Linked DNA regions of Homo sapiens: region 2 is linked to region 1. The links come from fine-mapping of genetic effects on plasma protein levels. A gene starts in region 1. The other region holds a variant in brackets. All regions are shown on one strand. Distances are between the middles of the regions.

Evidence for each region. A credible set is the group of variants that fine-mapping cannot tell apart. PIP is the posterior inclusion probability: the model's chance that the variant is causal. Protein levels are from antibody-based Olink assays in UK Biobank. Linkage for the fine-mapping came from a reference panel and not from the study's own genotypes, which makes the PIPs less certain.
Region 2: its variant is the best candidate, but not a certain one, in a credible set for the plasma level of the WIF1 protein (UK Biobank, PIP 0.65).

What each region holds. Positions count from the first base shown.
Region 1 is chr12:65,121,141-65,126,510 of GRCh38, reverse strand. It overlaps WIF1 (Wnt inhibitory factor 1), which reads left to right and starts at 5,206. Exons shown (of 10, transcript NM_007191.5): 1 at 5,206-5,370. The coding sequence starts at 5,320. RefSeq lists a silencer at 4,886-5,045.
Region 2 is chr12:64,935,401-64,940,778 of GRCh38, reverse strand. The region is part of intron 2 of LINC02389 (long intergenic non-protein coding RNA 2389); the gene reads right to left. All of the region lies in intron 3 of LINC02231 (long intergenic non-protein coding RNA 2231), which reads left to right. It also overlaps the pseudogene RNU6ATAC42P. Among named protein-coding and RNA genes, the nearest start is that of LINC02231, 54 kb to the left of the region's middle. The variant G/C (reference allele first, on the strand shown) is at 2,836.

The DNA of each region.
Region 1 (5,370 bases):
GTGCATAAATGGAAAATCATTCCCTATCTGTGTTCCTACTTCCCATAGGTAACCACTAGAAATATTTTGTTATATAAACTTTCAGACGTTATAGAAAAGGTAGACAGTTATAGTCTATCCATAGTTATATATAGCTATTATATATGGTAGTATAAGAAGAGAGTTTGTTTTTTAAGCATAATCCTCGCCAACTTGCCCTTTTCATTTACTATCTCATGTCTCCCTCTCCACAGCAGTGTAGTACAGGGGTATCTTTTCCTTCCTTCTCCAAGACACAGCTTAGGGTGCAGCTGATATGCACCAGTCTCAGTCCCAATGCCTGCAGTCACCAAGATAGTTCTGGCAACTTGCCTGGGTGAATGAATGGCTGGACACTGACAAGACCTACCTCTAGAGCTGTGTTGCCCTGGTTCCCACACAACTGCACTTCCAAGATGAGCACTGGCTTCAGCCCCCTCAGATACCTTCTTCTTCCCTGTCCCTCCGGGTCTCCTCCAGGATATGCATGGCAAACTCAGGAGCCTACAGAAGCCTAGATGGTCAAGTAAAAGAGCAAAGCATGCTGGATGGAAGAGTAGTGCAACTGTAACGACTGGGCACGCTAGTCCTCTTTGAAGGGCAGTCACTACTCACACCATCTGATTCTTTCTAAGAAGGGAATATTGTCAGATCTCTACATTTTCAAGAGCAGCCAGAAATCAAATTTTTAATTAAAAAATCTGCTTTTCAAATGTCAGCAGCTAAGATTTTTTAAACATATTCAAGTCTTGATCTTTAATTTTTAAAATAAGCTTTATATTTTAGAACAGTTTTAGATTTACAGCAAAAATGGCAAAGATAGTACAGAGAGTTTCCATATACCCCCACACCCAATTTTCCCTGTTATTAACATCCTATATTAGAATGGTACATTTGTCACAATTAATGAGCCAATATTGATACAGTGTTATTAGTAGTTGACTTACATTTCCTTAGCTTTACCTAATGTCTTTTTTCTATTCCTGGATGCTGTCCAGGATAGCACATTACATTTGGTAGTCATGTGTCTTTAGGTTCCTCTTGGCTACGAGTTTCTCAGACTTCCCTTTTTTGTTTGATCACTGACAGTTTTGAGGCATACTGATCAGGAATTTTGTAGAATGTCCTTCAGTTGGGTTTTTCTGATATTTTTCTTGTGACTAGACTGGGGTTATGGGTTTTCAGGAGCAAGATCACATAGGTAAAGTACCATTCTCATCACATCATATCAAGGGCACATACTATCACATGACTCATCACTGTTGATGATCTTGATCACCTAGTTGAAGTAGTGTTTGTCAGGTTTGTTACTTTCCCCACTTTCCACACTGCACGCTATAAAAGGAAGTCACTCTGCACATCCCACACTTCAGGAGTGGGGAGTTACGCCTCGCCTCTTTGAGGACAGCGTCTCTAAACAAATTATTTGGAATTGTTCTCAGCACAATCTTCCATAACCAGGTCCTACCTACATTTTGGGCTTCATCCCCAGCTGCTCCCTCCCTCTCCCATTCCAGGCTCATCATACTACAGGTCAGCACCTGCAGATCCTGCATGGTGCCATTCTTTCTCATGTCTCTTGCTCTCACTATTGCCACTGTCTATGCATGGATGTTCCTTATCTTTCCCCCTTGCATGCTCAATTCCCCTTTGACCTTCAAGACTGCTCAAGTATGCTCTACTCTAGAAAGTCTTCCCAGAACCCAGTCTGCCTCGAAGGATTTTCCTTGAGTCCCAAAATACCCTGTGCATTTTCCCACCATGGCGTTCATTCCTCTCTATTGTTTATTCTCAACACACTCCCTTGTTAGACTGAGAGTTCTTTGACAGCAGGGCTGTCTTTTTACTTACCTTTCTATCCCCTGTGCTTATATACGGCAAACATCAGACACCGGGTAAATATATTTTGAATGAATGAATGAACAAACAAATGTGCAGAATTCTAGATACAAGATTTCTTCTATGAATTTCCAGTCATTCTGCCTTATCAACAATCACCACATTCTGCCTTGTATTATGGTTGTTTAGGTACTTGTCTTACTTATTTTAGTAGCTCTATTGCTCTTTGAAGGCTATGATCATGTTTTATTTGTACTATAATTTCCAGGTCAGTGTCTTACATATAATAGCTGTTTAATAAATCTTTGTTGAATAAGCAAATGAGTTAATGAACAAATAAATGAAGCTGCCTGCACACATAATTGATGAGAGGGAATCGCACAAGGAAAGGAAGCATAATGAACTGGAAAATAAATGGCAGAATTTTCAAACGAAATGAAGTTGACTTGCCTAGCACATTATTTCCAAATTTTTATCATATGCTAGTAAATATTGTCACATGTTTGTTTAAAGAAATTTAAAAACTTAAATCAATTCTTAATGAAATAGCTACATAACTGCTCCTTAACAACAGAAAGGAGAGTCAAGCCTGATTCATCTCTTAGAGATAGACCTCCCTACAAAAAGAACCACGCTGCTACCCTTAAAAATCACTGTTGTATAACAAAACATGTGTTCCTTTGTCCCCTTTAATAACCAAACGAGTTTATATCAAAAATTTTTTAAATAGCATTTCTCTTTATCTATCTCTAATAAAATATAATTTTTCTAAGTGTCCTGTGCTGGAGAGAAGTAAACAGAAAACAACCATTCTGGAAGAAAAAAAACGTCCTTATAGCAAGATAGATTACCATTGTTATCAACACCAAATTCAACTGCTGCAGAAGAACCTCACTCAGAGGAAACCGAGTTAGGAGAGAATTTAGTTCCTCTTTTTCTTGCACCAAAAAATAAATTTTATGAATATTTCTCAATTAGTATTTGATTAGGAAAACCTGTAGAGGGCGTCCTTGCACCAAGAGCCATAGAGGTTTGCGCAGAACTAGAAAAAAATGTTAAAACCACTCGCTCCGAGTTAAAGAAAATGCCTATTGTGCTGTGAAATTATTATCTTTACCTGGGTGACACTGGCATTATAACATTAAAGTGTTTTAAAAGTAGCCTAATGTTCATACATTATATACATGAATATTCATAGAAATAAAAAATAATGCAATGTTGGGAAACAGGTAAATATTTTTATTGTAAAGGAAGAATCACTGTGAAGCTTTGGATGCAAATAGACTTAATTATGATTTATTTATCAGTATGAGGTATAAGTTACTAAGAGAATGGGCTTTGAAATCAGAGTGTCTGGGATTTGAACCCTTACTCTCATTTACCAGCTGGATATCCACAGTCAACTTACTGGACTTTTTGAGCCCTCTTTCCTCGTCAGTAAAATAAGAATAATAGTAGTACCTACTTAAGAGTTGTGAGGATTAAGTAAGCACTTAAAATAAAAGTACTTTAAAAATTAAGACACTGCAAGTTCAAATCAGTCATAGACTTCTTGTCTAATTCCTTTTTTCCTTTTTTTTTTTTCTATTGGTTGGTTGTATAGCTGCAAATATTTCCTCATTGGAAATCTATATTCTCAGAACCTAACACTGATTTAACTTGATGCCTGCACATGTCCACCATCTCTTCTGTTGTTTCTGTTTGTTTTTCCCTCTTGAGGCATCTGCTACTCTATAAAGGACTGATTGAAACACCACGCCCAGCCCCAGACATTTGATCCTTGAGGCATTTGTCACAGCTTCGGGTACTAAAGAACAAACACAAGTAAATGAACCTTTTATGAGTCCGAAGGCTAAGTTTTTTAATTAAAAACAAAACAAAACAAAACCCTTTTGCTTCCGTTTTCTTTGTGCATCCGAGGAATTAGGCAGGAGGCAAAAATCAGTTCTTTCTGCTGGGCCAGGTGGATAGGTTATGCTGCAGCCCACTGCCGGCCAAGCATGCTTCTCACAGACGAGGCCAGAGCCTTGGTTTTGCCCCCACGCACCTGTGAATTCGGCAACTTTTAAAAAATTATTTTATTTATTTATTTATATATTTTTTGAGACGGAGTCTCGCTCTATCGCCCAGGCTGGAGTGCAGTGCCACGATCTTGGCTTAATGCAACCTCCGCCTCCCGGTTCAAGTGATTCTCCTGCCTCAGCCTCCCGGGTAGCTAGGACTACAGGCCCCCGCCACCATGCCCAGCTAATTTTTGCATTTTTAGTAGAGACGGGGTTTCACCACGCTGGCCAAGCTGGTCTCGAACTCCTGACCTCAGGTGATCCGCCCGCCTTGGCCTCCCAAAGTGCAGGGATTACAGGCGTGAGCCATCGCGCCCGGCCGAATTCAGCAACTTTTAAAAAATATCAGCAAACGTGAAGATATCCACGATGTTAGAGGAGCCCTACCCCGGAGGGTCAGGTACAGCTATCGTCCAGGGCCCAGGGCACTCTTCCGGGCACTGCCGGGTTATCAGGGAGACAGACGGGAATCCCCAAATGCTGGGTGTCGGGCAAGTACCAGCTGGACGCCCTGCGCCTCGAGCCAAGGCCAGCGCCTGCCATCGGCACCATCGGACAGTCGAGCCTCGAGTTTTAACTGCTTGGGAGCGCGCAAAGTGCCAGCCTATCGCAGAACGGAGCGCATAGGGTTGGCGGAGAGAGGAATCCTACTGGCTGAAAGGGAGACGAAGGGCAATTTGCGCCTTCAGTGAGCGCCGGAGGAGGAACAGGAGTCATCACCTCATCATCATCATCATCATCATCATCACCATCACCATCACCATCATCAGCACTCAGTCAAGCCCAGCGTTGTCTGCTCTCCCCATTTCCCTCCCCCGAAGCCTCCCTTGGCCCGAGGAGGTGGCGAGTGATGTCCCAGGGGTCTCTGAGTGCCCTTCTCCGGGTCCGCCAGCCCTACACGCCCACTTCGCGGGCGCTCCACTGGGCGCACCGCACTGTGAATGCAGCCTCGGGGGTCCCTCGCGGCCCCGCCCCCGGGGGGGCCCCACAGCGCCCCCAAGTGGCGGCCGCCCAGGCCTCGCGGGCCCCACTCCTCGCTCGCACCTCGCTCGCGCCAGCCCTTCCCGCTCTTCTGTTCTCGCTCTATTTGCCCCGCTGACTGCTGGCCTCGCCAGCTTTGCCAGTCTTACGTCTCTGCCGCCCCCACTCCCGCCCGCGCCCCATCTTCTTGCGCGACTCGCGCCCGCTGGTCCCCCCCTCCTCCTCCCGCGTCCTGCCTGCCCCCTCCTCCTGCTCTCGCAGGCTCCTTGGCACCCAGGCCGGGAGGCGACGCGCCCAGCCGTCTAAACGGGAACAGCCCTGGCTGAGGGAGCTGCAGCGCAGCAGAGTATCTGACGGCGCCAGGTTGCGTAGGTGCGGCACGAGGAGTTTTCCCGGCAGCGAGGAGGTCCTGAGCAGCATGGCCCGGAGGAGCGCCTTCCCTGCCGCCGCGCTCTGGCTCTGGAGCATC
Region 2 (5,378 bases), 190 kb after region 1:
AGCAGGGGACATAATTGATTACGGCCCTTTATGGATATGTTGCAGGCGTTTCTCTGGTGTATATTCCCAGGCGTCAGTTGGATGGATCATACAGAATATAAATACACCCTTGGTTTCTCTAAGTATTGCTAGATTGTGTCTGTACCAGTTAACTCTCACATGCCTTTTTTCCCCTAAATTCTTGCCAACACTTGGAATCATTCAATTTTATAATATTTGCTACTCTGATGTCCATAAAGTGGTATCTTACAGTTGCTTTAGTTGGTCACGTTGGTATTGGTCATATTGGTATTGTCGGGTTTTGTACTAGATTGTAATGGGTGTGCCTTTCTTGTCTTCTCTCTTTGTTCCCTTCATTTGGACAGGAATTAACTTTTCTAGTTTGTTTACAGACCCTTAGCTCCAAGGTCAGATATTTGTCTGTTGGCCTTTAGCCCCATACTCACTCTCTTATATTCTCCTCTGGAAGACAGGTAAGCAGAAAGCCACATTCCCCAGACTTCCTTGACAGCTAAAGTTAAATTTGGTTCTGCCAATCTGGGGGAACTGCACCTGACTGGCAAGTAGAAATAAGGGTGGGGCCATTGTTTCTGACAGTGCCTCAGCTGCAGCAGCAGAGGTAGGTGGCTCCTGCTCAATGTCAGCCCTGTGGTTTCAGTGGCACTGGTGGACAATGGCTCCATGGTTCCAGCAGTGACCCCAGTGAGGGTGGCTCATACACTCTCTCCCAGGTATGCTAGCAGATCCCTGAGCTCTGGGTAGAACACCCTTTCCCTTTTGCTCCTCCAAACATCTTTAGAATCAACGCCCCACATTAAATCCCTTTCAGTTTGAATGATCTAAAATTATTTCTGTCTTCCCGACTGGGCACTGACTAACACATTTCCAGTATTCTTATCATCCTCCTAGAATGACCTTTTGTCCTACAGCAGCATTTCAAAGCATGTCCTTGCAAGATAAACATTCTTAGACCTTGCATCCCTAAGAATATCTTCATTTTGCCCCTTGCATTTCAGTGATAATGTATCTGGGTATAAAACCCAGGAGCAAAATTCTCGTGCTTTGGAAGTATGGCTGCACTGTCTCCTTGCATCCGGTGTTGCTATTGAGAAGTGTGATGACAGCTTATTCTTGTTCCTTTCAAGGTCATTTGCTCTTGCTCTCAGGAATCTTCTTTTAAGTTCTTAAATTTCCTGATAATGTAATGTATCTAGGTGTTGATTTTTTTTTCTTATCTCTACTGTACAACACTGGCGAAACCCCTTCAATCTAAAGCTTTTATCTGTATTTCTATGTAGATTATCATTAATTCAAAATAGTTCTCCACTACTGTTTATTGTTTCTCTCTCATTCTGAGACTTTACTTTTTTTTTTTTTTTTTTTTTTAATTGAGACAGGGTTTCACTCTGTGACCTAGGCTGGAGGCCGGAGTGCAATGGTGCAATCACCGCTCACCGCAGCCTCGACCTTCCCAGCTCAAGCGATCCTCCCATCTCAGCCTCCTGAGTAGCTGCGACCACAGGCATGCATCACCACATCCAGCTAATTTTTCATTTTTTTATAGAGACAGGGTTTCGCCATGTTTGCCCAGGCTCATTCTGAGATTGTTATCATGTTGACATTTCTATTTTTATATGCCATATCATTTAATTCTCTTTTTTATGAAGTCCTCATCTTTTTTTTTCAATTTTTAGGCCTGAGGGCCTCTTCCATCCTTGTCAAGGGTAGTGCTAACCTTTTGTCCTTTCAAAAACACTGCAGTCCTTCTCTTTCTTACTGCTGCCTAGGGGTTTGAGACTTCCAGGTCATTGATTAGTTAATCCAAAGTTTACATTCTGCTCTTCAATCCCTTTATTGAGTTCTTCATTTCATCTATTGCTTTCTTATTACCCAATTCTCTAGTTGAATATTCTTTGTGATGCTCATTTCTTTTTGCTATTTCTGATATTTTTATCTTTTCCCCCGTTTGTGGCTATTTATGTTTGTTTTATATTCTTATGTCTCTGGTCCACTAATTCTAACTTCCTTTGCTATAGGTTGTTCAGCTTATCTTCATTTTATAGCAATCAAATTCCTCTATTTATCCATATTTTTCCCCCATGATGTATTCAGCACATCTGCTGGCTTGGCTAGCACAGTGGCTCTGGACGGAGGGACCAATCAAAGTCACCTAGGTCTTAGATTGATCCTTTCCTCAGAGTTTAAAAAGGGGTATAGAGAAATGTGACCAATCCCTTGAGGCCATTTCAAACTTCACCTCCACTATGACACACAGCTGCAAACATCCCCAGCCAGGTGCTTCTGCCCTCCAAGAACCCCCTTTTCTTCCACCTGGGATACTGCTCTGCTTAGAGGGCGACATCCCTCACTTGAAATCTCCTGGCCCACTGGGTGGAGACAGTGAGATGAGGGAGGAGAGAATTCTCAGGAGCCAGACCTTCTACACAGCCCTAGTAGTCACTTCCCAACAGCTGGGCTCCCACAGAATCACACTAAGGCCAGGCGGTTGCCACTGTGTTCCTGCTCCCACAGAATCTACAGGGCAGGCAGTGAACACCTTCCTACTTATTCTCTTTCAGTTTATCCCAAAATACCACTTTTGTCATGTCACTTCCTTGCCTAAACACCTTCCATGGGTCTCCTTATCTATATTTAAAAAAAAAAAAATGTCCAGTATACAAGGCCTTCTCCAATTTACCCCTTTATTTCCTGAATATCTTTTTCTATTTGGCATCCTCAAATTTACTTTGCTGTCCTATCTTTAGGTAGCCATCACAGCATAACCTCTTATTCATAGCAGAGGCATAAAATTATACCTCTTAATTGATTGTGCTA[G/C]CCCATAGGCCAATGGTATTTTTTAAAATGGCAAAATAATTGTTCTTGGTTCAGAAAAAGAAAAAAGTCTCTTTCATATGCAAAAAGAGGGCACAAGTTACCATCACTTGTACATGTGTTAAGCATTTTCACAATGTCAGAGAAAGGTCTGCAATAGTGAGTGAGCCAGACTCACTTATTTGATCTCTCTTTGAATCAAGGTTTCACATTTTTAAGATGTCTTAGTAGTGTGCAGCTAAGGAACAGGCTTAGGAAGTTGACCTCATGATATTGACCCCATGAGCAGTATTTCAACAAACAGGAGCTAGCCTGTGGGAAGCATGAAGGCACTAAAGGATGATGTAAGCTGTCTAAGTCTCCAATCTACTACCTTGAGTTTTGGCCTCAGGACCAATGTAGCAATTTGCAATTATGATCCCCTATCCTCAATCATGAAAATGTGTCAGTTCAATGGGAAGTAAAATGGGCTTTTAAATAAAGAGGGCTAGATAAACTCGTGCATCACAAACAAAATACATGCCTGCTTCCAAATGGAGAAGTAACTGAAAATGTCCAGGCAATTGGACTAGCTTTCTTTTCATGTCTCCACCATTTGTCTTTGGAACCTGAGTCATTTCTATGTCAGCTTGCCCAGGTGGCCTGGAGAACATAAGGGTTGCCAGCCAGGACACTAACTCTTTAAAGGTCTGTTTATGTCTGCATAACTAACAGTGCTTATGTGTACTCAGGAGGAAATGCCAAGCTAACAAGGAAGACCACGAGTCCACAAAATTTTAATTTCTAGTTTTAGGAGAAATTAACTTCCACATTCATGTTTTTGTATTATGAATTTGCATGACAACTTAAAAGTCTGCCATGGTATTTATGGTAATTTCATTACAAACCACATTTTCATCTTTTAATTTCTTTCCTATTTATAATTATACAGCTATAATTAAAAGGTATTACAATGACACGCTATCCTCACTAAAAGCCTGGCCTGCCAGACTTATTACATTCAAGATATTTCTCCAGCTTTATTTCTTTTCTCTCATTTTGGAAGAAGGGGAGGGGAGGGAAGGAAGGCAGTGGAGACTTTGGTCATTATAACCTCAAATCTTTTCATCAACTTCTCTTTGTTCCTTCAAAAAAAAATAGGATTTTTCCAAACAGTCCCCCAACTAAATGAAATGTTTTGATGTAATAGTTTCCATGTAAGCTTCTCACCACATCTGAAGTGATGCTCACACAGACTCACTAAGACCATGCAAAAAACTTCAAGGATGGCTGAGACCTGGATTAAATTGTCTTCCAGGGCGAGTGCCAGCAGCCTCTGCCCCCATGGCTCAAAGGGTCTCACAGGCTTAACACCAAGGCTGAGGCACCTCTTACCTTTCTCTTTCAGAACATAGAAGTTACTTGTGTATAAAGACTTTCTTCCATTCCAATGACTTATCGCTCACAAGTCCAAGAAAATAATCTGGAGGCAGGGAAACTAAGTGTCTAAGGCCAAGCCTCAGCTGAGAAGAGTGCAGTGAACTGATCATTAATTACCTCCATATCTTCAAAGAATGTTGAAACTGTGCAGCCAAGCACAGTCATTGCCCTCAACGAGTTCATACCTGAGCTGGAAGAAGGATGCACATCTACCGTTTGTTGCCAAACTACTATTCATCTTTCCGTTAGAGAACCAATGTTCTCCCACCCATGACACCCTGGTGGGACTATCCATCACTGAATGTCACCTACTTTGAAGCCAAACACTTTGAGCGAGACCAACAAAATTACTTCAGGTAAAAGAGTCCTGGGGCAATAAGCCACTGTTTTTATGATTGCTGCTATAAACATGGCCTCACATTGGGCCCAGATTACCAGACTCCCTCTTCTCTCACAAAAAATTCTTCTTGGGATCCTTTAGGATCTTTTCTTTCTGGTGACCTTCATTGAGATCATCTCAATCCACTAGAAGGTTGTCTATCAAAAACGTAGGGGTCGAAATCTTGATCCCATTCCTCATGAAAGGACCCTCATTCCCTCTCCACAGTGATCTTCTGTCAAATCACAAGGAAAGGTCCTCCTTCCTTGGGGCACTTCTAGGGCAAGAGATAACAAGTTGCCATAGATTCAGAGTGGTTTCTCACAGAAGTAACAGAATCTCCTCAAAATGATTTGCTGTCTGCCCCTAGACCAATGCTTTGCTGCCTTAGCTCTACATTGGTGTTATGGACTGAACTGTGTCCTCCCAAAATTCATATGTTGAAGCCCTAACACCCAGTGTGACTGCATTTGGAAACAATGTCTTTAAAGAGGTAATTAAGGTTAAATGAGGTCATAAGGGAGGAGCCCTGATCCAAGAGAACTAGAGTCCTTATGAGAAGTGGAAGAGACACCAGAACTCTCTCTCCATGCACACAGAAGAAAGACCATGTGAGGACACAACACAGAGACAGCCACCTGCAAGCTAAGAAAAAGAGGCCTCACCAGAAAGCAACCCTGCCAGCACCTTGGTCTTAGACTTTTATCCTCCAGAACTGTGAGAAAATAAGTTTCTGTTGTTTAATCCA